Linked DNA regions of Homo sapiens. The protein of the gene in region 2 purifies or fractionates together with the protein of the main gene of each other region. This does not show direct contact. Each region holds a gene or a part of one and is shown on either strand. Other genes may lie near its edges.

Region 1 (6,213 bases), on a different chromosome or scaffold from region 2:
ACCTCATGTGATGTGTCACGGTCAAAACTTTGTTTCATTAATAAAAAGATTTAAAATGTAGTATAAAATTACCTTCATGCTATATGTATAGGTTGTATATGAAACATAAATGAATTTCATGTTTATACCTGGGTCTTATCCCATCTCATGTATAAACAAACTTGCTGAAATCTAAAAAAATCCCAAATGGGAAAAAATCCAAAATCCAAAACACTTGGTCCCAGGCATTTTAGATAAGGGATATTCAACCTACAGTAAATATTTATGTGTGATAAATATTAGATAAAACTTCAAAGGGCTTGTTTATCACAATTCTTCCTCTTCTTACTTTTCTTATCTAATTCTTTGGTGTTTCTATCTGAAATACAAAGTGTGCTATACTTTCATGTTCCCTCATGTGCTTATGTAGGGAAATCAGAATTTTTCTTTCTGATAAATGGTTTATGAATTCAGATGATGGCAATGAGGAAAATCATGAGTCTATACAGTCTAAGAAATTTCAGGACATTTGGATTAAGGATTTTTTTTAAAAAAAAAGATACTATGAATCATCCTTGGGCTTCTACCTGCATATTCATGCCAAATTATGAAACTATTATTTCGTCTTAGAGAGTGGTAGAATACGTAATATATTATAGTGATTATTTTTAAATGCTTTTTGTAAAACTCAGTTGCATTTTAGAAAATACAAATTTGTACAACTTTTAAATAATATTGTAATCCAAACATAACTTTAGAAAAATATATATATGCGTGTGTGTATACGTATATATTTCATAATGTATTTCAATGGAAACGTTGAGAGAAGGAAGTCCAAACATATGGCTCTCATACATATATAATCCAAACGTGTAATCCAAACTATATATAATATATAAAATAATGCATTTCAAAGGAAATGTGTGGATGTGTGTGTGTGTATATATATATATATATATATATACACGTATGTGCCATGCTGGTGTGTGTGTGCCATGTGCCATGCTGGTGTGTGTGTGTGTGTGTGTGTGTATATATGTATATACGTATATATATACATATATACATATATATACTTATATTATATGTATATATGTATATATAAGTATATTATATATACATATATTATATATATGTGTATATATACGTATATTATATATGTGTATATATACGTATATTATATATGTGTATATATACGTATATTATATATGTGTATATATAAGTATATTATATATGTGTATATATACGTATATTATATATGTGTATATATACGTATATTATATATATATATAAAGCATTTCAATGGAAATGTCTTGTGAGAGAAGAGAGGAGTAAGTAGCTTACGAAATAGGAAAATCACTTTTTAATACTTTTATATTCAAACACTATAAGAAAGAACAGCATTATTAGATCTAAATGAAAATAAAAACACACACAAAAAAAACAAAACACAACAACAAAAAGAAACCATGAGTCTGAACCCATGACTTTGTCAGTAAATACGCTTTTCCAGCTCTTTCACTCAAATGGTGAGCAGCCTTCATGGCACTTCAACTGCATTGAACCTCAAGCACACTGATTCTTGACTTTAATCAAGTAAACATATATATTTACTCTATACTATATATTTAATAGAGTAAATGAGCCAGAGTTTCATGAGGAATAGCTGAGCTCCTTTTGGAGCTAAGATAACTCAAGACAAGCCCAGAACGTCTTGTCAGAAAGCAAAAATATTTTAAAGTTATTGGGAAGGATTGTTTAAAAAGATTGGGTTAAAGAGATATCTACTGGCGAAGCTATGACACTTTGAGCATCAAAAAGAAAAAGAAACACAGATCCATGGGAATGCTTAAAAGAGACACACAGATGGAAGCCATAAATTGAGCCGGGATTCATTTAAAATAGAAATGTGTGATTTATGGTGACAAGGGTCGAGTGTAGTAATGAGAAACCAACTGAAGCAGGGGAGAAGCTGAAAATTAATTTCCTAGAAGACATTTACAGAGGATTAAAAATGTGTGCAGATAAATTAGATGAATGTTTTTGTGTCTGTAGTTGCCTTTTCTCCTCTTACATGTTTCTTCATGCAAGATCATAATAGTAAGAGTTATAAAAAGTCACACATGAGAGTAATTGATGAGGCAGTAAAGAGTACAGAGCAAACTCCAGCAGAACAGCAGCTCTCTCAGTTCACCATGACTCATGAGCTGTTGACCCTGGCCCACCAGGCATGAGGTGCAGGGCAAGGAGACTTCAGAAGGTGTACCAGACAGGAGCTGAAAGATTGCTCCTGACATGAAAGCACACAGTAGGTAAGAGCCGTGTGTCTTCTGTTGCATTAAAATCAAGCTTTAGTCATAGGCATGGTGCCTGCACATCATTGTCTAACACATTGAACAGTGACAACTGTAAGGTTTTTTTCTTTATTTGTTTTATCATCAAATCAGCATCCTCCGTGCACAGGTGAGGACACTAGTGCCCACAGAGATGACATGATTTTCCCAAGGTCAGATCTTCGACCCAATCTTCTAACTCCCAGACCAAGGCTATGTTTCCATGATACCAAATCATCTCACTTGGTTCTGAAACATTATGCATTTTTATGAATGAATAAATTTTTATTTGTTGAATGTTTTTCAAGGGCTTTATATTTATTTATCAAAATACCCACTTTAAAATACTGAAGCTTCACAGTGATGTACTTTGAGCTATATTTCAGTTTGGTGGCTTCAGAGCAGTTCTCAACTGGAGACTGATTTTGCTTTTGAGGGCATTCTTTGGAAATATCTGGAAATGTTTTTGGTTGTCATGATGGGGGAGGGGTATGCTGCGGGTAGTTGTTGATGAGAGGCCAGGAATGCTGCTAAATGATGCATAGGACAGCCCCTCACAACAAAGATTTATCCAGCCAAAAATGTCAATAGTGCCAAAGTTGAGAAAACCAGTTGTAGAAGATCATCCTGAGTTTGAATCTCAGGTCCGCCATCTACCAGCACACAGTATGGTCACCCCTCCATAAAATCAGGGTAATATTCCCACTTCAGTGTGTCAATGTGAATATCAAATAAGATCATATTCTTAGGGCTTATCCCAGATCCTGAACACTGATTAAGTTCTCAGCAGATAGTTGTTACTATCATCTCATTAAAGTGTTGTATCCTATGTACTAGGTTGTAAACCGCTCTAGCGCTTGAAAAAAACAGCAGTCTAAGACTCTGTAGTTGTTCTCTAGCAATTAATATTTACTGAGCTATTCAGATAAAGGAAGGAATTATTCTAGCTTAAATTATCCCATAAATGGTTTTCCATATGACCTGAGGTATGACAGGTTACAACAGGCACCAGATTCCTCTGGCAAGCCCTTCAGAACTAAAATAATGGGAGGAATAGTGGGGCAAGAGGTGGGCACAGGGAGGTGGGGGCAGAAAGGGACGACATCAAGGCCTCTGCATGCAGCCTGGACCTGGCATCTCACCTGCTGTTGAGCTACTGAGTTTCAGTGGCAATTTTCTGAGAAGGGAGGGAAACGACCATTCCACTTCCCTATAAAGTGCTCCCAGAGCTGTGTGCACGGGTGTGTTAATAAGCACTCCCTGAAGGTGGCGGTGAAGGTGGTGATGATGACAATGTGAGGACTATTCAGGTAGGCTGCTATTATCTGGAATGTACTATGATGTTTTTGTGCCCCGGTAACCAGTGCTTAAACTGGGATGTCATTGGAATCTCCTTCTAACTCTCCTATCTCAACTGTATCTACTCAGGCAGTGGTTTTCAACCCTTCATGTGCACCTGGAGAGCTCATTAAAACCCAGAGTGCTGGGTCCAACACCCATAGTTTCTGATTCAGTACTTCTGGGGTAGAGCCCAAGCATTTGCATTTCTTTCTTTCTTTCTTTCTTTCTTTCTTTCTTTCTTTCTTTCTTTCTTTCTTTCTTTCTTTCTCTCTCTCTCTCTCTCTCTCTCTCTCTCTCTCTCTCTCTCTCTCTCTTTCTTTCTTTCTTTATTTTCTTTTTGTTTTGTTTGATCGTTTGTTTTCTGAGACGGAGTCTCGCTCTGTCGCCCAGGCTGGACTGCAGTAGCGCTATCTCGGCTCACTGCAAACTCCACCTCCCGGGTTCATGCCATTCTCCTGCCTCAGCCTCCCGAGTAGCTGGGACTACAGGCGCCCGCCACCATGCCCGGCTAATTTTTTGTATTTTTAGTAGAGACGGGGTTTCACCGTGTTAGCCAGGATGGTCTCGATCTCCTGACCTCGTGATCCGCCCGCCTCGGCCTCCCAAAGTGCTGGGATTACAGGCATGAGCCACCGCGCCCGGCCAGCATTTGCATTTCTAACAAGTTCTCCAGGCGGTGCTGATGATCCTGGTCTGGGAAACACACTTTGAGAACCACTGCACTGAGGGAAAACATCAAAGCTGCAGTACTTGGAATATTTCTGCTGCCTCTTGGCTCAAAAACAAGTACTGCAAGCTGTGTGCTTTCTTCACACCCAAAGAGGGCCTCGTGGAGATGTGTGAAGATGTGACACCTTGTGCCTCATGATGACCTCCATTAACATGGGGACCATTGCAACGAAATGTTCTCGTGGGAAAAACAATTTGTCCCAGTGATTAACTGCAAAAGCTGAGACTGACCTTATCAATCTGAGAGAGGGAGTCATCTTGAGCGCCCAAGCGGACCAGGGCCAGGGCAGCGAAGAGGCTCAGAGAGGAAAAGAACACATTTCCATTTCCTTGATTGTCATCCATCTCTCTGAACAGGTTGAAGCAAAACTCTGCATTTGCTGCAGCAAGGGAGGCCATTGCAAAATGGAGTGCAGCCTAGAGGACAATGAGAAAATGAAATTAGTTCCCGGTACATTTTCTAGGAATATTATATTTTTAGATTTATTTATTTTTTATAATTTAAAGCTTCATTTTTTTTCAGCCTTGGAGGTAATCATCAAATAACTCTAACAAAAAGGGAAAAGTTCCCTTGGCCCAGTATCCTTGTCACTAATACCCTAAAACTATCTCTTCTCGTTGGTGGACATTTCTGTCCTCAGTGGCCTGTGAGTGGCCTGTTTCCAACCCCCAAGCAGACACATTCATGGGGCTCACTATTTCTCAAATCACCCCAGATTTCTGAACTGAAATAGAGCAAAAGTAAATATTACAATATTAGACAGTCTATTTGAGGCACTACAGCCTTTGCTTTCTAAACCATCTGTAATTCAATACAATGTTAAATTTTTGAGGTTTAACACATCATTTTTAACCCATTCTTTCCATTAAGGCCTCTGTAAATTCTTAGAACAATCATACATTCTATTTTTTTTCAAAACTGTCCTAATTTTAAGTATTATGCATCATTGGTCCCATAAGTGCATTAATTTGTTTAAAACCATTTTCTGATTTTTTTGGAATGCAAAGTGTGATTATCAGAGTATGTATCAAGAACATGTACAAGACTTTTCAACACATAGGCCTATTTCTTCCTAGAGAACCCAGGGTGCAGTAACAAAGTGGAGATTATCTTCAAATTCATGATGTTGTTTCTGCAATACAGACGGTTGCTACCACCATGGAATTCTTCAGGGATCCACTTGGGTAATTTTTTTTGCAGAATTTCTCCTCAACTCAAATTGATCTCAAAATAGCAGTTGGGGTTGTCTCAGACTACATGAACTTACATGAATTCTCCAAATTATTCCTCATGAATGTCCAATGATATTACATCTGATGGTGTGGCAGGTGCCAGGTGTTGCAGATGCCAGGAGTCACAAACCCTTAGGGGACTTCATCCAAGTCTCAACCCTGTTGCTAATAGTTGTGTGAACTGGGTCAAGTCTTTAATTTCTCTGAACTTCTAAGTTTCATCTTGTTCAGTGAGATGATCTATGTACAGGATCTAGCATAGCGATTCTCAACAGAAAATCATGCTTCCTTGTACCTTTTGCTCCATAAGAAGAGCACACATAGGCATCTGGGGACTGGCATGTTGTGGGTGAGGAAGGGGGTCACAAGGAGGGAGAGCCATGCAGTCTGAAAGAAGAACATTCTAAAATTGCCATTGTGTTGGCTTTGTCACAGTTGCAAATACTTAAGGCCTTTTAAAATTGTAAATGAAATTAAAATAAGTTTTTTAACTTTTATTATGTCAAATGGGAGTTTGAGTTAAAAAATTAAAAAAAAACTTTTCTAGTACAATGCATGATCCAGAGTAGACGTTCAATGAGTTGAAGCTGCTGCATTT
Region 2 (5,051 bases):
ACTCTGTCATCCATGATGGAGTGCAGTGGCATAATCTCAGCTCATTGAAGCCTTAACCTCCTGGGCTCAAATGATCCACCCACCTCAGCCTCTTGAATAGTTGGGACTCTAGTTGCATGCCACCATGCCCAGTTAATTTTTGTATTTATTTATTTTTGTAGAGATAGGGTTTCACCATGCTTCCCAGGCTGGTCTCAAACTCCTGGGCTCGAGTGATTCACCCGCCTTGGCATCCCAAAGTGTTAGGATTACAGCGGTGAGCCACTGTGCCTGAACATGACAGGGATTTTTGCCTCCATTTTACAGATTAAAAAAATGAGGCTCAAAAAAATTAAAAAATTAATCAATTAGTTATTTTAAAGACAGAGTCTTGCTCTGTTGCCCAGACTGGAGTGCAGTGGTGCGATCATAGCTCTTTGCCGCCTTGAACGCATGGGCTCAAATGATCCTCTTGCCTCAGGCTCTCAAGGAGCTGGGACTACAGGTACATACCAGATAACTTCTCAAACTTTTTTTAGACATATGGTCTTCCTATTGTGTCCAAGCTAGTTTTAAACTCCTAGCCTCAAGAGATCTTCCTGCTTCAGTCTCCTAACTGAAAGAATATTTTTTTGATAGATGGTTATCCAGGAAGTCCTTTATTAGCACTTTTAATTATTATCACAAGTGGCAAAATATTTTTGGAAGTTTGAATACTAATTTACTCTCATTTGGTCATGAATATTGACAGTTTATAAGTAAGTTATTCAGCTTCTGCATATCTGAAACAAGGTGGCTAATAAATCATTAACCACTAGCAAATCTGTAACCACCTGATACACTAAACATGGAATATATTTCATGGTGCATATTTCCATTTGTTGCGTACTGATGGAGTTGAGCCGTATATAGTGAGAAATGTTATTAACCCTATCCATACCTTTCTTTTTGGGGGGCTCTACTGCAGTTTATATTAATCCCCCTCACTATAGATGAACTGCAATGGTCTGTTATAAGTTTAAATCAGATTAGTTTCTACCTTTTAGGTGAATGGAGCAAGAGTATCACCTTGGTTTGTTTTAGTGATTATGATTACTTTTTTCAATGCCATTTTTCACACTCAAGCATACCAAAATTAAACATTAAATGCCATTATCATGAGTTCTGAATATAAACACTTGAGGATAGGCAGAATTATGATTTGTAATTCTTTGTACTGTATGTTTTAGATGTTCAAAAGTACTCTGCTTATTAAAAATTAAGTTTGTGACTCTTATAAGAAAGCAAATGATGAGGTAACTGTGAAGAGACCAGAATTTGTCTTCACATTGCTGGATGTCCCTTTCTTGACTGCTGTGCTTCCTACTTCCAAAGAAAGTTCTAGACCTGGAGTATCATGTTAGTGCCCTGAGGAAATGTAGTTTCTGTAAGGGCCAACTTTCTTCCATCTCCAAAGAAGAAAAAGAGTCAGTTTTCCAAATATGTTTTAATATGCATATCATCCAGGCAGCATAATGTTATATTTCAAAGACAGATTTATCCATTGAATTATTGTTTTTAAAAGTTGGGATTCTCTACATAGAACATATTTTCTGAAATTTCAAGAATATTTTCAGGTAAATTAAGAATTAATTTCTTCTAAGACTATCCAATGTGTCTCAATCTATTCCATAATATAATCAATGATAAAGATTCACATGTATCACCAAATTCGAGGCAGCTTAGTTGAAAAAATTTGAAACAGCTTACTGAATTCCTGGAAGAAAATAAAACACCTTTTAAATGTAGGTAAAAAGTATATTTAACATAAATATCTTTTACTTGAGATCCAAGTTTCTTTTGCAGGATTAGGAGCATCCATATCATTCTTTAGTTATCTCTAAGGATATTTGGTTCTAGACATTTTCACATGTTAAGCAATTAACTTTGCTTGTGGGTGCAAGAAAAGCTTATTTTTGTCACATTTCTTAGGTTCCATCTAAGAACGGCAGATGGGTTTATCTGCTCTGCTAGCTATTACTAGTGCCTGCTATTACAGTAGGTAATCACTAGTGGCTGCTTGCAGTATTACAGTAGGAAGGTTCTGAGGCTCCATCAGTGAGTGGAGACAGGGTCATGATGAACTGAAGTGTGTCTCCTATAGGCTTCTATGTGCGTGTGTGTGTATTGGGGCAAGGAACACATTCTGCTTTCAAGTATTTTCAGTTCTGACCCAAAATGGAACATGTGTTATGCCAACAATTAAAAATCTTTCAGGCCAGTCATGGCGGCTCATGCCTGCAATCCCAGCTCTTTGGGAGGCCGAGGCAGGCAGATTGCTTGAGGCCAGGAGTTCTAGACCAGCCTGGGCAACATGGCAAAACCCCGTTTTTACAAATAATACAAAAATTAGCTTGTATGGTCAGGTGCGGTGGCGCACTCCTGTAATCCCAGCACTTTGGGAGGCCGAGGTGGGTGCATCACTTGAGGTCAGGAGTTTCAGACCAGCCTGGTCAACATGGTTGAACTCTGTCTCTATTAAAAATACAAAAATTAGCCAGCTGTGGTGATGTGCGCCTGTAATCCTAGCTACTGGGAGGCTGAGGCATGAGAATCGCTTGAACCTAGGAGACGGAGGTTGCAGTGAGCCGAGATCATGCCACTGCACTCCAGCCCGGGCAACAGAGCAAGACCCTGTCTCAAAACAACCAAAAACACTCACACAAATTCTTCCTTCAGTGTTAATACCTGGGGGTTGGTGGCTGAGTAAAAATATTCCCTCATGTTGCTGGAGTTAACTGTGAGTGAGTAAAGGGGCTTCCTAATCTTACTAAGATCTGCATTTGTCAAGGCAAGACAAAGAACTCCTCTTTTCCATTCTGCAGATGACTTTTATAGCCAAGAAGCATGTTCCAAGCTAGGAGAATTTACCATTTGCTGATTCTGTGGTGGCTTCCTCGATGGCATGTGTGCTCCTTTGGATGCCTGCAGGGGTGGTCACTGCAAAGTCGTCATCTGTGCCACTGGGAGTTGGGAGGCGGCCTGCTGGGGTTCCCTGGGTGGCAGGATTTACACCTGCTCCTCCTGCTGGAAGGCTTCCATCCTGGACATCTGGATTAGCCCCTGCCTGACTGGTGGGCAGGATGCCTCCCGGGAACAAGGAATGGATGATGAGGCTCGTGAAGATTTGTGGCTGGAATGAGGGAAGCAAACAGAAAACAAAGTTAAAAGCAACACATTTTCTTTTCTCTTTTAAGGGGAGCAAGTTTGGGTAGGAATGGAAAGATGGAGAGAGTAAAGTCAGAGAAGACAGCAAAGACCTGGCATTCCTCAGGGGAAATACACCCTTGGTCCAGCCTAGTCTGATTCAATACTGGGACTCTTTGCTATGCTCCATTTCCCTCAGAAATAAATTACATATTATTAAACCTAACATGTAATCTTTCTTTTGCTCATAACATTTTTTCAAAAAATAAGAGCATAAAAATTAATGGAAAAATTGATTCAAGTAGATTAATCCTGATGGCTTTCATCCCTTCAAGTTTTTTTGATGTATTTTTCAAAGGCATTGGAATACTTAGTTAGAAACATTTATCCTGGCAATTCAGCTATTGTATGTTCCTTGAAGATACATAAAGAATTCCTGTCTATTGGAGTTTTTCATTTTTAGAGAGATTCTGATCGAGCAGGTCTGGAGCAGGACCTAGCAATCTGCCTTTTTAACCAGCTTTTGATGCCATCCTGATTTGCTGGGCAAGGAATGAAGTTTGGGAAACACTGTGTTACATTTAAGAGATATTGAAACCAGAATTAGACTTACGCTGGATGACAGATAGGAGCAGAGTACAGACGTTTTCAAACTGAGGGTTGTGATATCCACAGTTTTGAAGTAAAAAAGGTGAGTGTCAGTCATCATTAAACAATAAAACAGGCAGTAGACTAGTAGTGCATTCTATATAGTAAAGGTGAATGCTGTTTCGTGAATGTGTGTGTGTGTGTGTGTGTGTGTGCTAAGCTGCATGAAAAATGTAGTTGCTATTGTGAGTTGTGTTAAAAATGTTTGAAAAACCACTAGTGTAGTAGGTTAAAAAATGGCATTGGATCTGGATCCACTCTTTTCTTCTCATTGTTGCCTTTGAGGCCTAAATTACTTAAACTTTTAACCTCAGTTTCTTTATCTGTAAAGCTGGGTCAAAAATATCTGCTTTGTGCTTTGGGGAAGGTTGAAAGCAACATATGTAAAGGATCTGCTAAAGTGCTGGTTATATAGAAGAACCTTCAGTAGCTGGATATGGATGTTCATGCATCAATGTTGGCAAAACAGACACTAGCCCCATTCCTTGATGATTATTTATGGACAATATAGAAAATATCTACATTTTCCATAATAGAAAAGCTGTTGAATAACTGTGTTCCCAAATATTGCCTCAATTCTGTACTGTTGTCATGTTTAGATATCATGTTAATTCAAGTCCTTTTCTCTAGAAAAGGACCTATGGAGGAATGCATAGAAGTGTTTAGCAATGGTGATATGAACTATATTTAGGTACAGCCCTCCAATTATTTATGTGTGTAGGAAAGAGTTCATTTATCACTATCTGACGCTGGAAAAAGATATATTTTTCCATAAAAATTAAATATCCAAGTCAAGGAATTTAATCTTTCCTGTAAAAAGTCAATATTTATGTTATTCTACATTTGCATACATTTCAATAGTTTATAATCCTAGACTGAAATCCTTATGAAGTTAAAAAATGTGCACTGCCTTTCTGGATAGAACTGAATCTGATAGCAATAAACGGAAACAAAAGCTAAGTCAAATTAATAGAAAAGTAGCTGGAGAAGTATAATGAAATCCCCAAACAAAGAAAGGATAATCTAATGTAAGGAACTATAAAAATGTTCAGTTCATTGTAGTACATACCATATTTAGGATTTATGGTCAAAAGAGACTATATGAGGACAGAAAACATTGTGATAGAAGTGAAAATAATTTGAAATAGTATTTTTATTTTTTTTACCAATTCCTCTGAGCTTAGGATAGTGCCCTAAAAGCAAAATGACAAACACAATTTGTTAGACACATTTTAATG
Region 3 (5,615 bases), about 48 Mb from region 2:
CAAAACCTAAGACATACAATTTTAAGTGGCAAAAATGAAACCTAAGCAGAGTGTTACGGGAAAGGCTTCACAGTGATAGTAACTGTCCCCTGAGCCTTAAAGGATAGGGGTAGGGCTAGAAAGTGTTCCATACTGGAATACATGTGCCATGTACCAGAGATACAATTATGGCTGGCATGTAAATTATCACAGGCTTCTTCTAAAAGGGACAAATTATCATCATAATGAGTTTGGGTTTCTGTAGGAAATGTGATCCAGTGAAGGTGCAGAAGAATGAAATGAGAGAGTTAAGTGGCAGCAGTATGTACAATACATTCGTGAGATGAGGGACACTAGATAGGAAGTGGTTTGAAGTGTCTGGGTGGGAGATGATCAGGTTCTGAATTAGAGCAGTGGAGGTGGAAAGGGGGTAGATTGGAGAGATGCTAGAGAGGTTAACACACAGGGAAAACAGGGAGAACTCCTGTCCTTTGCTCATCATGATTCTCTAGACCTGTGCTGTCCAGTACAACAGCCAGACACACATACTATTGAGCATTTAAAATGTGGCTCATCCAAATTGAGATGTGCTGTAAATATAAGATTTCTATATTTTCTATATAAGATTCTAGAAAAAAATAGATTTCTAGACTTAGTATGAAAAATAAAATATAAAAATATCTCAATAATTGATACAGATTACATATAGAAATTATATTTTAGATATACTGGGTTAAATTAATTATTTAAATGAATTTTTTCTTTTTAAATGCAGTCATCAGAAAACACAGAATTGCATATTCATTTGCATTACTGGAGAGTGCTGCTCTAAGAAGAAACCCACAGGGAAGAAGCCCAGAAGAGAGGCAGTTTTGTCATGAACACTTTGAACCCTTCTTTCTACACCTGTATTCCTACTTGAGGAAGTCAAGGTAGATGATCTGAATTGTCATAATTTCATATTTATTGCGCCACAAGTGGGGTTAACTGAGCCACACATGCACAACAATGCCTCTCCACCTGCCTCCTGTGTAATTAAGAGGAGCGAGGGTATTTCTCACTTCTTCCTCTCAGGAGGTAAACCCACCAGAAAGGCCTGCAATAGGGAAACACATGCAGTTAGCTGCTTCACCAGCTGCAGCAGGGAAGGTATGTGCAATTTTGGCTAGGAGGGCAGGGCCCTCCCTACTTTTGCATTCTATGCTTTTTAGTTATCAAGCAGAGAGTAACTCTGTCAACACCACTTGCTTTTTTCCTTTATAACGTTTCGGCCTGGATCCAAGTCTGTTAGGTTTTAAGTTGCCCCGACCTAGTAAAAATAATAATATATAAGAACAACTGCTGTTGCCACAACTCAGCTAATTCCATGTGGATACAGATATGTGTGATGCCTTGGCTTTTGGGTGTCAGCTCTAGGTACTGGGAGTTGGCACTGGAATAGCTGTGTGCATAGGCAGATTCCACTCCTACATGGGGAAGCAAAACTAACCCTTAATGAGATTTCTCCAAAGAAGTTTAAGATTTGCCTCCTGATGAACCTGAAGTCAGGATTCTTTTCATTTTATGTTTTATCCACCCTCTCCCACATGCCACTACAACTTTACTATTGTCCATGATTGGTAGGGGCAGTGTGGGTCTAGCCTCTGACACAATTCAGACTGAGGCTGGGCAGGATAAGACATTGAAGGAGGAAAGACTTGAAGTTCCAATTTCTTTAGAATTTACTTTCTTTATGGAAATTAATGGAAAGAAGGTCAGATTGCTCATCTGAGGTATTTTCTATTGCTGCCATTCACTTGGGTTTTTTTTTTTGTTTTTGTGTGGTGCTCATTGTACAACCTCCTCTGACAAAAGTGTCTCGCTATGAGCTGAGGTGGTAAGTAGAACAGGGAATGAATGTCAGCCTTGGGAGAAACTTAGCTTTAAGCTACAGTGATTAATATCCTATCCTACCATTTGATTATCTACAGGTGTCAGGATGACACAGAAAGTATAGTGGAAGGTCTCAGGGGAGTGGAGTCATGGAAGTGGTATTGGCCTGTCTTGACACAGTGATGGTCGTCTCTTCAAGGGGCACACCCACACCAATAAAAGGAAAGCATACTGGTATGGATTGGTAGATCCATCTTTATTTCCCCGCTTTACATTTCTAAAGGGAGGGGGATGGCCCTATAGAGTAGGAAGAGAACATTAAAATAATCACTGCTTGTCACCTCCTTGCTTCTTGTGTGCCTTCTCCAAGGGAAGACTGGCTAACTCTGAATGTGACATTCTCTGGGTCACCTTACCAGAGGTCTTAAAGAATTAATGTGCTTCAAAAGCCAATCTCATCTTTCATTGGCTGACTCACAGGGAATCGCTAAAGCATGGGAGTGATTAGGAAGGCCCAGGTAGAACATGTTGAGCGAGAAGAGAGCCATGATACAACCCTCGGGGAATACCAACTCTTAAGTGGCAGATGAATGAAGAGAAGCCTATGAAAAAGAGTCACTGAGAAAGAAGAATCAGGAGCAGGGGATGTTTTGAAAGCTGACAGGAGAGAATTTGAGGAAGTAGTCAACCTTGTAAATGCATAAAAGGATTGAGAATCAATTGTCTTTAGCAATTTGGCAGTTTACAGAGAAGTGGAGAGATGAGAAGAAGGAAAGAGCAGTTAATATAGACTTTTTCAAGGAGCTTGGTTGTAGAATGTTTGGTATATTGCCGGTGTTCAATAAATATTTGTAGAATGAATGAGGAAAGGGAAGCAGAATCTTGGAGAAGTGGCAGCTTCTATGAAGGTAGATTTGAACAGCTTGTAAACTGGAAAAGGGCCAATGGGAAAGGAATAATCTAGAAAATACAAGTGGAAGGAGAGAGAATAAAAAACATTTGGAGCACAGAGAACTGTGCAGGGCAGGACTAGAATTTCTCAGGAAGGCACTTGGTTTCGGTCATCTGTAGATATACTGTGGTAGAAATCTTTTTTTGTTGTTGTTCCCCACAGAGAATAATCTGACAATAAGGTCTAAGAGGACTGTTTTTGAAAAAGTAATTAGCATAACCTGGAAGGTAGCAGTTCCTTCTAGATTTGATTTTGTTACTCTTGATCCTTCCATACCAACTCTTTTCTCCTACCTAATCTTAACCCTTTAAAAGTATGTTTTCATTTCCTTTGTTTAGTCAGTTTTCAAGTGTCAGAGAAAGGGTGGAATGCTAAGTGCACTGGGACTAAGCAGCTAGTACAAGCCCTGTATCTGCTATGATCCAGTTGTGAGACCCGGACCAAGCTAGTGAGCTCCTTTGAGCCTCACTTTCATGTCTGTGATGTGCAGCTACAGGAAGCCAGGTATCTCCCAGATTCCTTTCAACTCTGACATCTGTAGATTTTAGATATTTCTAATTCTTTATAGAGATAGCACTCTATGAACAGATGGATACATTTGCAGATAGTACATAAGAAAATCTGATTCTTTAAGTATTCAAGCTAAAATTGTTTTATCACACAGGTGCTTAATATTTTATTCACATATAATATTTGAAGCTCACCCCCAGATGGTTTTATAACCAAAGCTGACATAACTTTGATAAGTGGTTGGAACAGGTGGGAGAAAGCAGAGGAAAGTTTAATGTTTTTCCCTGAAGGAGGAACTACTGAGCACAAGGATGATCTCCATGCTTAGTCTTGCCTCTTTTCTGCAAATGCCCAGTTGGAGGGATGCAGTTGCTGCAGCTGGGATGAAGGTGAATCATTATTGCTGTGCATTCTAAATACCAGTGGCTTTCAGTTTGCATTTCCTGAGACTCAAGATTTGGTTACATGTTTCTAGGGCATTCAGAGAGAATGCCCTAGAAAAACGTGTAACCAAATCTTAAGAGAATGTGTTTAGTTTGAGCCTTGTCTGTCATCTCTAGGTCCTGCCCTTAAACTGAACCATAGGTGCTGTGTGGTGTGAAAACTGTTCTAGAAAAGTTGTGTATTCATCCAGATGTCATTAGTTCAATTTACCTAAGCTCTACCTAAAGTTGATGTTTGCATGCATGAGTTACTTTCACAGTTACGAATGTTGGTTCAGATTGACATCACATTTACATTTCAGGAGACAACTGGCCCCATAAATACCCTGGCACTTGTAGACACGTGCCTCCAGCTGAGTGTCTTATAGCTCTTCAGTAAGCAGTGTTACACAGCACATCATCATCATCTATACATTCTAGATCCCAGGAGACTCTAATATTGAGCTTGGGAAGGAAAACAAGTAAGTATCTGGAACGTGGCAACAACATATAATTTTCTTGGGTTCTAGACATATTAAAATTTTTTACTCAAACTCAGAAAAGGCTAGAAGGGCTTGGAAGGACAAGAATAACAAAACTTTTCAGAGATTATAAATTAAACATTGTAATAAATCAAATTTTACAAATGTTCTAAATGATACTTTTATAATTAAGTAATTTTAGGCACCAGAAGAAAAGTCACTTCAAAGTCTGTTAATGGTACCAATTGCTATTAAATCATGAAGTTAATACTGACTTAAGATACCCCATAGTTAACCCATGGTAATAGCCATTTATGTTTGTGACTGGTAAGTAGGTAGATATACTTAGAGGTTAATGTGAGGTTTTTTTAACTTTTATTTTAGATTTGTGATGGTGTGAGTTTTTAAAATCAAAGATCACGTCATAAAAATATAGGGTGTGCATGTTAAGTCTTTAATGAAATTTTTAACATTTGAATAAAGGGAAAAATAAAATTGCTTTCTTACCTTCATTGAATATGGCCTCTTTTGTTGGATAATACCCATTATCATTCTGAGTTGTTGAGAGTATGGGTTTCCCACTTCAGGCAGCAATGTCTTAGATTTAAGAAAATCAAAGTTTTAGTACAGTTTATAACATTTAGATAGAAGTAGCAATATGAGATTATCATAATGTTAAAAACATAAAACCATGTACTTGAACATTGGTGTAGTTCATTACCTGAAAACCAAAACTGTGGGGAAAATGCACTAAAAATTATTGGCACCCATTCCCATAATTGACAGAAGACAATTATTTCTGTCTTTTGGAAAAAACTCTTCCTCTGGAATTTGACACATGTACATCACTGAAATGATACAGCACAGACGTAGTCAGCCCTCTGTATCCATGGGTTCTGCATCCATGGATTCAGCCAACCACAGACAAAAATATTATTTGTAAAAAATGCATCTGTACTGAAAAGGCATGGATTTTGGGTTTTTTTTGTCATTATTCTGTAAACAATATAGTTTAACAACTATTTACATAGCATTTTATATTGTATTAGGTGTTATAAGTAATCTTTTTTTTTTTTTGATAGAGAGAGGGTCTCACTATGTTGCCCAGGCTGGTCTTGAACGCCTGCACTCAAGCAATCCTCCCGCTTCAGCCTCCCAAAGTGCTGGGATTATAGGTGTGAGCCACCGTGCCCAGCTGGTGTTATAAGTAATCTAGAGATGATTTAAAATATATGGGGGTATATGTACAAGTTATATGCAAATACCATGCCATTTTATATGAGGGACTTCAGCATCTGTTAATTTATAGAGTATTCTGGAACCAATTCCCCATGGATACCAAGAGACAATAGTATATGTTTTATGCAAACAACTTCCTGTGAAAGTTTGATCCCTTTT
Region 4 (6,213 bases), on a different chromosome or scaffold from region 2:
CTCCTCCTTGTCCTTGCTCTTCTTGTGTTTGCTCTTCTTCTTGGCAGCTTTTTCTTCTTCCTGAGGAGCACAAGGATGGGGCGCCATGGAGTCACAGGAAGCCACAGCCCTGGTCCCAGGACCGCATGCCACCCAGTCCTGGCCTGCCAGGAAGGGGAGTAGCCAGTACCTCTTTGCCTTTTTTCTTCTTCTTCTTCTTCTCCTTAGAGGGGGTTTTGCCCTCCTTACCTGCACAGACAGGACAGACAGTGGCTCAAACTCAGGCCAACGGGGACCCCAAGCTGGGTGACAGGACTTCTCTAGAAACTCACAAAGCAGCGAGCCCCAGCCCTCCAGGAGGCCCTGCTGATGGACAGGACCACACTGCAAACATCAGCTCCTGCAGGGGGCTGCCAGGAGCATGGCACAGCATCCTGGACTCAGGAGAGGACCCCGGCCAGCGGCCAGCAGCTGGGAGGAGGCCCACGTTCTACCCAAACTCCAGCAGGCTGACCGCACTCTGGTGCCCCCACCCACCTTCCTCACTGCTCTCCTTGGGTCCGGCCTCCTCCAGCCCCAGCCCGAAGAGGTCCGAGTCATTCTTCAGTCTGAAGGCGGGGAGAGGGAGCTTGGGGGGTGGGGGCGGCTCGGCAGGGCCCTCATCCTCGTCAGTCACATCGGAGGGGTCATCTCGCACGGGAAAGTCATCCTGGAGCAGGGAGAGCAACTGGTCAGGCCATCATCCCTCCCACACCCCCAGGGGTTGTGGGATCTCAAACCAGGCCGGCAAGGCCCAAGTGTGGGGACATGAGATGCCTCTTCCAGAAGCCTCCTCCCACTGCACCCACCCAGATCAGGCCTGTGGGAGGGACCCTGGCCACCTGGCTGACCTCTGCCCCGGGAGGACTCGTCTTACCGCCCTGCGCTGTGTGTCTGATCCCTCGCTCTCAAAGTCGGGGTCATCCATGACGAAGGACAGCATTTGTGCAGCAATGGGTCCCTCGGGGTCACTCTCCGACGAGGAGGCCTGCTCACCCTTCCCCGGCTCCATCTCAGCAGGGGGCCTGGTGCTGCTGCGCTTCTCCGGACCTGTGCGAACAGAGACACCGCCTGGCCAGGGGGGTGCTGCGGTCCTCGTGGGAGCTGTCCCCCTCCGTGGCTTCGAAGCTGGTATGGAGGACCTTTGTGGACAAGCAGAGGGTCAGTCAGGGTCCTCTGGAGGCGTCCTGAACTGCCCCACCCGGGTCTCCAGGCCGCACCCGTGGGGACACCTGCCCTTACCACTTGGTCTCTGGCTCTGAGCACTGCTGGGGAGCTGGGGCAGGGCCTTTTGTGGGAGCTGCCACTTCTGCTTCCTCCTCACTCGAAAGAGTGATGTCTTGACTGGGGACGGGGCCTGCAGGCAGCGGGGGACTCCCACGTGGCTGGTCTTCGAGGTCCACATCGTCCTGGAACCCTGCCACCATCGGGTTGCCGCCCAGGGCCTCCCCATCACTGCAAAGCAGGGGGCAAAGCGGTCAAGGGCCACGGGGTAGGGATGGCTGGCCGGGCTCACGGGCCTTGGTTCTAGGCGCCCTGGTACCCAGCACACCCTGGCCGTGGGGCCACCCCACCCCAGGTGCTGTGTTGTGGAGAGGCCCCCTCATGGTCACAGGGCTTCTGAGCAGGAAGGGGTCGGGGGCACAAGGTTGGACACAGTGCTGCCCTGCGGCCGCTCAGTGGGTGAAGGATGTGGAGCCGCACAAGTGGGCGCTCGTGGAGGAGGCGGGCCCAGCTCAGGGCCACGGGGCTTTCTGTCCTTTGTGTATTTCTGGAGGAAGCCGCTGCCCCACAGCAATGGGTGAGGCTGAGGTGCTGAGGCCACTGTGGGTGGAGCTTGTCCAGGGCTGTCCTGGGACCAAATGCAGGGCTTTGCTGCAGGCAAAATTTGGGGCAGCTTGGCAGACAGAGTGGTGGGAGGGGCTGGCAGATGGCTGGGGAGGCGGCTCTAGCTCCCAGCTCTAGGACCTGCAGGAAGCCGCCCCTGTCTCTGCAGCACCTGGATCCTGGCCCTGTGGAGACCACATCTGGTGGCCTGAACCTCCCATATGACCTGCAGTGGCCTCTCCAATGGCTTCCATGTGGCATCTGCCCACAGAAGACCCCAAGGTGCCCCTGTCCTCTCCAGGGTGTGGGCAGAGCAGGTGGCCAGGCCTTTCTGATGTCTGGAAGCCCCGTCCAAGCCCTTCCCTCGTCTGCTCCAGCCACAGAGCTGCTCTGTCCTCAGCCAACAGTGACCAGCCGGCGGGGGGCCCCTTCTGCGCCCCTAGAAAGCCAGCCCCACCTGCTGCTCGGGCACCCTGGAGGCTGGGGGGCAATGGGAGAGGAGGCCCAGGCCCACCCCTCACCTGTCGCTGTCCTGCTGGGCAGCCTTGGCCCCCACCTTCTTCTCGTCCCTGGCGGGGGTTGTGTCTTCCAGGAAGCTGCGGTCCAGGCGGTCGTCAGGAACAAAGTCCTCCACACTCTGGACCGTTGCTGGGCCCTCTGCGGCCGGGACTGGCTCTGTGAACAGTGATGCCGGGTCCTCTTCACTCGGCACCAGAACCCTCACTGCACCCAACCCCAAGCCAGGCCCACCCGGGATGTGCCCACGGGACTGGGACAAGCAGGAAGAAGCGTGGAGCGCTCCGAAATCCAGGACCCCACCTGTGAGGGCCTGGGGGTCTGGGACCAGTTTGGGAGGGGCAGCTCCAGGGCCTACCTGGAGGTGGAGGGGCTGCCTCGGTGGCAGGTGACGTCCCAAACAGCCTAGAGATGATGCTGCGCCGTGGGGCGGGGGCTGAGGGGCACGCAGGTGGGGGCAGGGCCTCTGAGGGTGGTACAGGGGGCACAGAGGATGGTGGGGCGGCATTGAGGGGCAGCTGTGGGGCGGGCTGGGGTGTGCCGGGGCTGGAGCTCCCCGTGGACACAGCGCCTGCAGGCACCACTGGTGACTGGGAGCCCGGGGATGGGCTCTGCCCGTTGGCCGCCAGTGGGGACGCATGGCCACGGCTGCGAGCCTCCATCATCTCCAGGAAGCTGAAAGGCAGAAGGCGGGTGAGAAGCCTGGCTCCCCTGCCTCTCCCTGAGGCCCTCAGGTGACAGGGGGCTCTCTGCTGCTGCTGCTGGGGCTGGGAAGAGCCACTGTGTTCTGGGCCACCCGCCCCACAGAGGCCATCATCCCCATCCACTTCCAAGGGCAGCAGTGCCAGCCAGGCACGGTGGCTCATGCCTGTAATCCCAGCACTGTAGGAGGCCAAGGCAGGCAGATCACGAGGTCAGGAGGTGGAGACCGTCCTGGCTAACGCAGTGAAACCCCGTCTCTACTAAAAATACAAAAAAAATTAGCCGGGTGTGGTGGCGGGTGCCTGTAGCCCCAGCTACTTGGGAGGCTGAGGCAGGAGAATGGCGTGAACCCGGGAGGCGGAGCTTGCGGTGAGCCGAGATCACACCACTGCGCTCCAGCCTGGGCGACAGAGCGAGACTCCATCTCAGAAAAAGAAAGAGCAGCAGTGCCAAAGGGTGGGGACAGCAGGCACCAGCGTACATGTGTCCAGCTCCCCTGAAAGTCACTTCGGATCTGTTCTGAGGCACAGCTGTTGGGGGCTCCATGCAGAGGTGGCCAGATGGCAGCAACTGGACCTTCCCGTGAGCGGGGGTTTCTGGGAAGAGGAGGGGGCTGGGGCTTGGTGGAGCACGTGCGGCCATCGCAGCATCCAGCTGACCCAACTCTCAGGCCCAGGAAATGCCAGGATTGGTTCAACAGAGAAGCGCCCATGCGGGGGGCTCCATTCTGGGGCTGGCCTGGCAGCTGGAAGCCACGGGTCCCTCTCCAGGCATCAAACTGCCTTCCCTCTCGGTCTCTTGCTGTGTCTGAGCCAACAGCCAGATCCAAGGTGACCCACAGGGCTCTCCTTCTGGAAACAGAGACCTCCTGGGGGGCCTCAGGAGGGCCACTGATTCCGTGGTCCCTGCCTGGGTCCCAGGGGAGGCACCAAGCCCCTAGCTGTACAGGAGCCTGAGGCAGAGAACGGGCCAGCTGTCCCACTGGCCGCAACCCCGGGGCTATGCACTGCCCAGGCCCACTCAGGAGGATGCTCTGAGCCGCCCTCTGCTATCGAGGACCAGAGACCTCCATGTCCTGGCCTGTATGCCTCTTCAACACAGGGAGCTTCCCAAAGTCAAGCAGCTCCCCAGAAAGCACACCCCATGCTGGCATCAATCTGGGAGGCCAAGCCCCTGATGGGCAGGCAGCCCCAGCAGCACTCCATGAGCACCAGCACCTGGCCACGGTCAGCGGTACTCAGAGTGGCAGGCACAGCATGACCTGTATGAGGAGTCCACGCCAGGGGTGACTGTGGGGGGGCTGCTGGGGGCAGTGCAAACCTGAGTCCTCCTCCACCCGTGCCCAAAGGTGACTAATTTACCCCAAACAGGGGACACTCCCCTCTGCTGTCTCCTTGGTGCAGCCCATGGCCCTGCACCACGGCCACGCCCGCAGCCCCCACACCGCCCGCACGGGCGGGTCCGGCCACATACATGCCGTAGTTCTGGTCCTCCGTCTCCTGCTGCACCGACAGCTCCTCCAGCGTGGCGTCCATGTCCAGCTGGTTCGTCTCCAGCTGCCGCAACAGCGTCTCCCTCTGCAGAAAGGGAGCACGCAGGCCTGAGCAGGGCTCCTTCCTGCTGCGAGTGCCCCAGCCCCACAGCCCCTGAATGCACAGGGGACGCCTCCTGCTGCCAAAACCAGGAGATGCTGCAGGGCTGGCTGCTCAGCAACTCATGGAGCTCTGCGCTGGGCCCCACTTGAACCACAGAAGCCCAGAGGATTCCTCTGCGGTGGCCGGCACGACACCTACACACTGCCAGCATGGCTTGGGGGACAGCTGTCAGTCACAGGCATAAACCTCAACAGCAAGCACCCCCACCCACACACGCACCTCTAAGAGTGAAGAAGCCGCACCTTCACCTGGGAAACAAAGCCCCTCTGCTCCCCGCCACGCACACCTCCTCTGGTGGCAGGACACATCCCCGGTGCACGCGTCGCCACCGTCCCACACCCACAAGCAGCTGGCTCTGGAGCAAACCACTGCCCTCCTGGCCTGGAACCCCAGGCTGGTCTGATGAGCTGCGGGTCCCTGTGGCTGCTCACTTTAGATTCAAATGAAATACAAACGCCGGAGCCTCACGAACTCCTGACCTCAGGTGATCCAGCTGCCTCAGCATCCAAAGTGCGAGGATGACAGTCGGGAGCCACCGTGCCCGGCCCCTTCTCTTTTTTTAAATAGAGATGGGGTCTCGCTATGTTGCCCAGACTGGTCTCTAATTCCTGGACTCAAGTGATCCTCCCAGCTTGGCCTCTGCTGAAATTACAGGCCTGAGCTACTTGCCTGGCCTCTCCTTTTTTTTTTTTTGAATCATCTTTTTCAGAGATTTTTTTTTTTTTTTTTTTTTTAGAACAGGGTCATGCTATATTATATTGCCCAGGCAGAAGATCTGGAACTCCTGGGCTCGAGCTGTCCTCCCACCTCTGCCTCCCTAACAGCTGGGATTATAGGCGTGAGCCACTGCGCCCAGCCTGGAGAGGTTTTTAAAATAAAAATGTGAGGCTGGGCGTGGTGGCTCACACCTGTAATCCCAGCACTTTGGGGGGGCCAAGGCGGGCAGATCACGAGGTCAAGAGATCGAGACCGTCCTGGCCAATATGGCAAAACCCCGTCCCTACTAAAAATACAAAAATTAGCCAGGCGTGGTGGCAGGCGCCTGTAATCCCAGCTACTTGGGAGGCTTAGGCAGGAGAATCGCTTGAACCCAGGAGGCAGAGGTTACAGTGAGGCAAGATTGCACCACCGTACTCCAGCCTGGACAGAGTGAGACTCCGTCTCCAAAAAAAAGAGTGTATTAAAGTCATTAAGGTCCCCAGGCTATAACAACAACAAAAAAATGTGATTTACAAAGAGAAATCTACAGACTTGTCAACCAAATGTAATGTGTGAACTCTGGATCCTACTCTGAATACTGACCAAATATCTGACGACTGGAAGAACTCTTTGGGAATTTTATTTTTTCAATTTGTTATTGTGGCTTATTTCTCCAAGAAAAACCTTCTGTGAGTTTAACATGCGGTATTACATTAGGTACTACGGTCAGGTTAAAAAAACAACTGATTTTTTTAGAGATGTGTTTGAAATATTTTTAGGTGACATAAAGAAGGCC

The links.
Region 1: the proteins of AMTN (region 2) and SERPINB7 purify together in Homo sapiens (affinity purification with mass spectrometry; one large-scale study listed by BioGRID and IntAct). This does not show direct contact.
Region 3: the proteins of AMTN (region 2) and SEC24D purify together in Homo sapiens (affinity purification with mass spectrometry; one large-scale study listed by BioGRID and IntAct). This does not show direct contact.
Region 4: the proteins of AMTN (region 2) and RABL6 purify together in Homo sapiens (affinity purification with mass spectrometry; one large-scale study listed by BioGRID and IntAct). This does not show direct contact.

The regions. Positions count from the first base shown.
Region 1 is NC_000018.10:63,780,941-63,787,153, reverse strand, and holds part of SERPINB7 (serpin B7), read right to left. Parts: intron 4,800-6,213; 5' UTR 4,782-4,799; coding exon 4,614-4,781; intron 1-4,613. UniProt on the Homo sapiens protein: Might function as an inhibitor of Lys-specific proteases. Might influence the maturation of megakaryocytes via its action as a serpin.
Region 2 is NC_000004.12:70,529,139-70,534,189, reverse strand, and holds the end of AMTN (amelotin isoform 1 precursor), read right to left. Parts: intron 5,007-5,051; coding exon 4,980-5,006; intron 3,152-4,979; coding exon 2,890-3,151; intron 1,736-2,889; coding exon 1,725-1,735; 3' UTR 1,447-1,724; downstream 1-1,446. UniProt on the Homo sapiens protein: Is a promoter of calcium phosphate mineralization, playing a critical role in the formation of the compact, mineralized, aprismatic enamel surface layer during the maturation stage of amelogenesis.
Region 3 is NC_000004.12:118,723,837-118,729,451, forward strand, and holds part of SEC24D (protein transport protein Sec24D), read right to left. Parts: intron 4,815-5,615; coding exon 4,725-4,814; intron 1-4,724. UniProt on the Homo sapiens protein: Component of the coat protein complex II (COPII) which promotes the formation of transport vesicles from the endoplasmic reticulum (ER).
Region 4 is NC_000009.12:136,834,169-136,840,381, reverse strand, and holds part of RABL6 (rab-like protein 6), read right to left. Parts: exon of another isoform or gene 5,963-6,213; intron 4,641-5,962; coding exon 4,537-4,640; intron 3,037-4,536; coding exon 2,720-3,036; intron 2,521-2,719; coding exon 2,367-2,520; intron 1,474-2,366; coding exon 1,261-1,473; intron 1,161-1,260; coding exon 896-1,160; intron 689-895; coding exon 517-688; intron 229-516; coding exon 170-228; intron 61-169; coding exon 1-60. UniProt on the Homo sapiens protein: May enhance cellular proliferation. May reduce growth inhibitory activity of CDKN2A.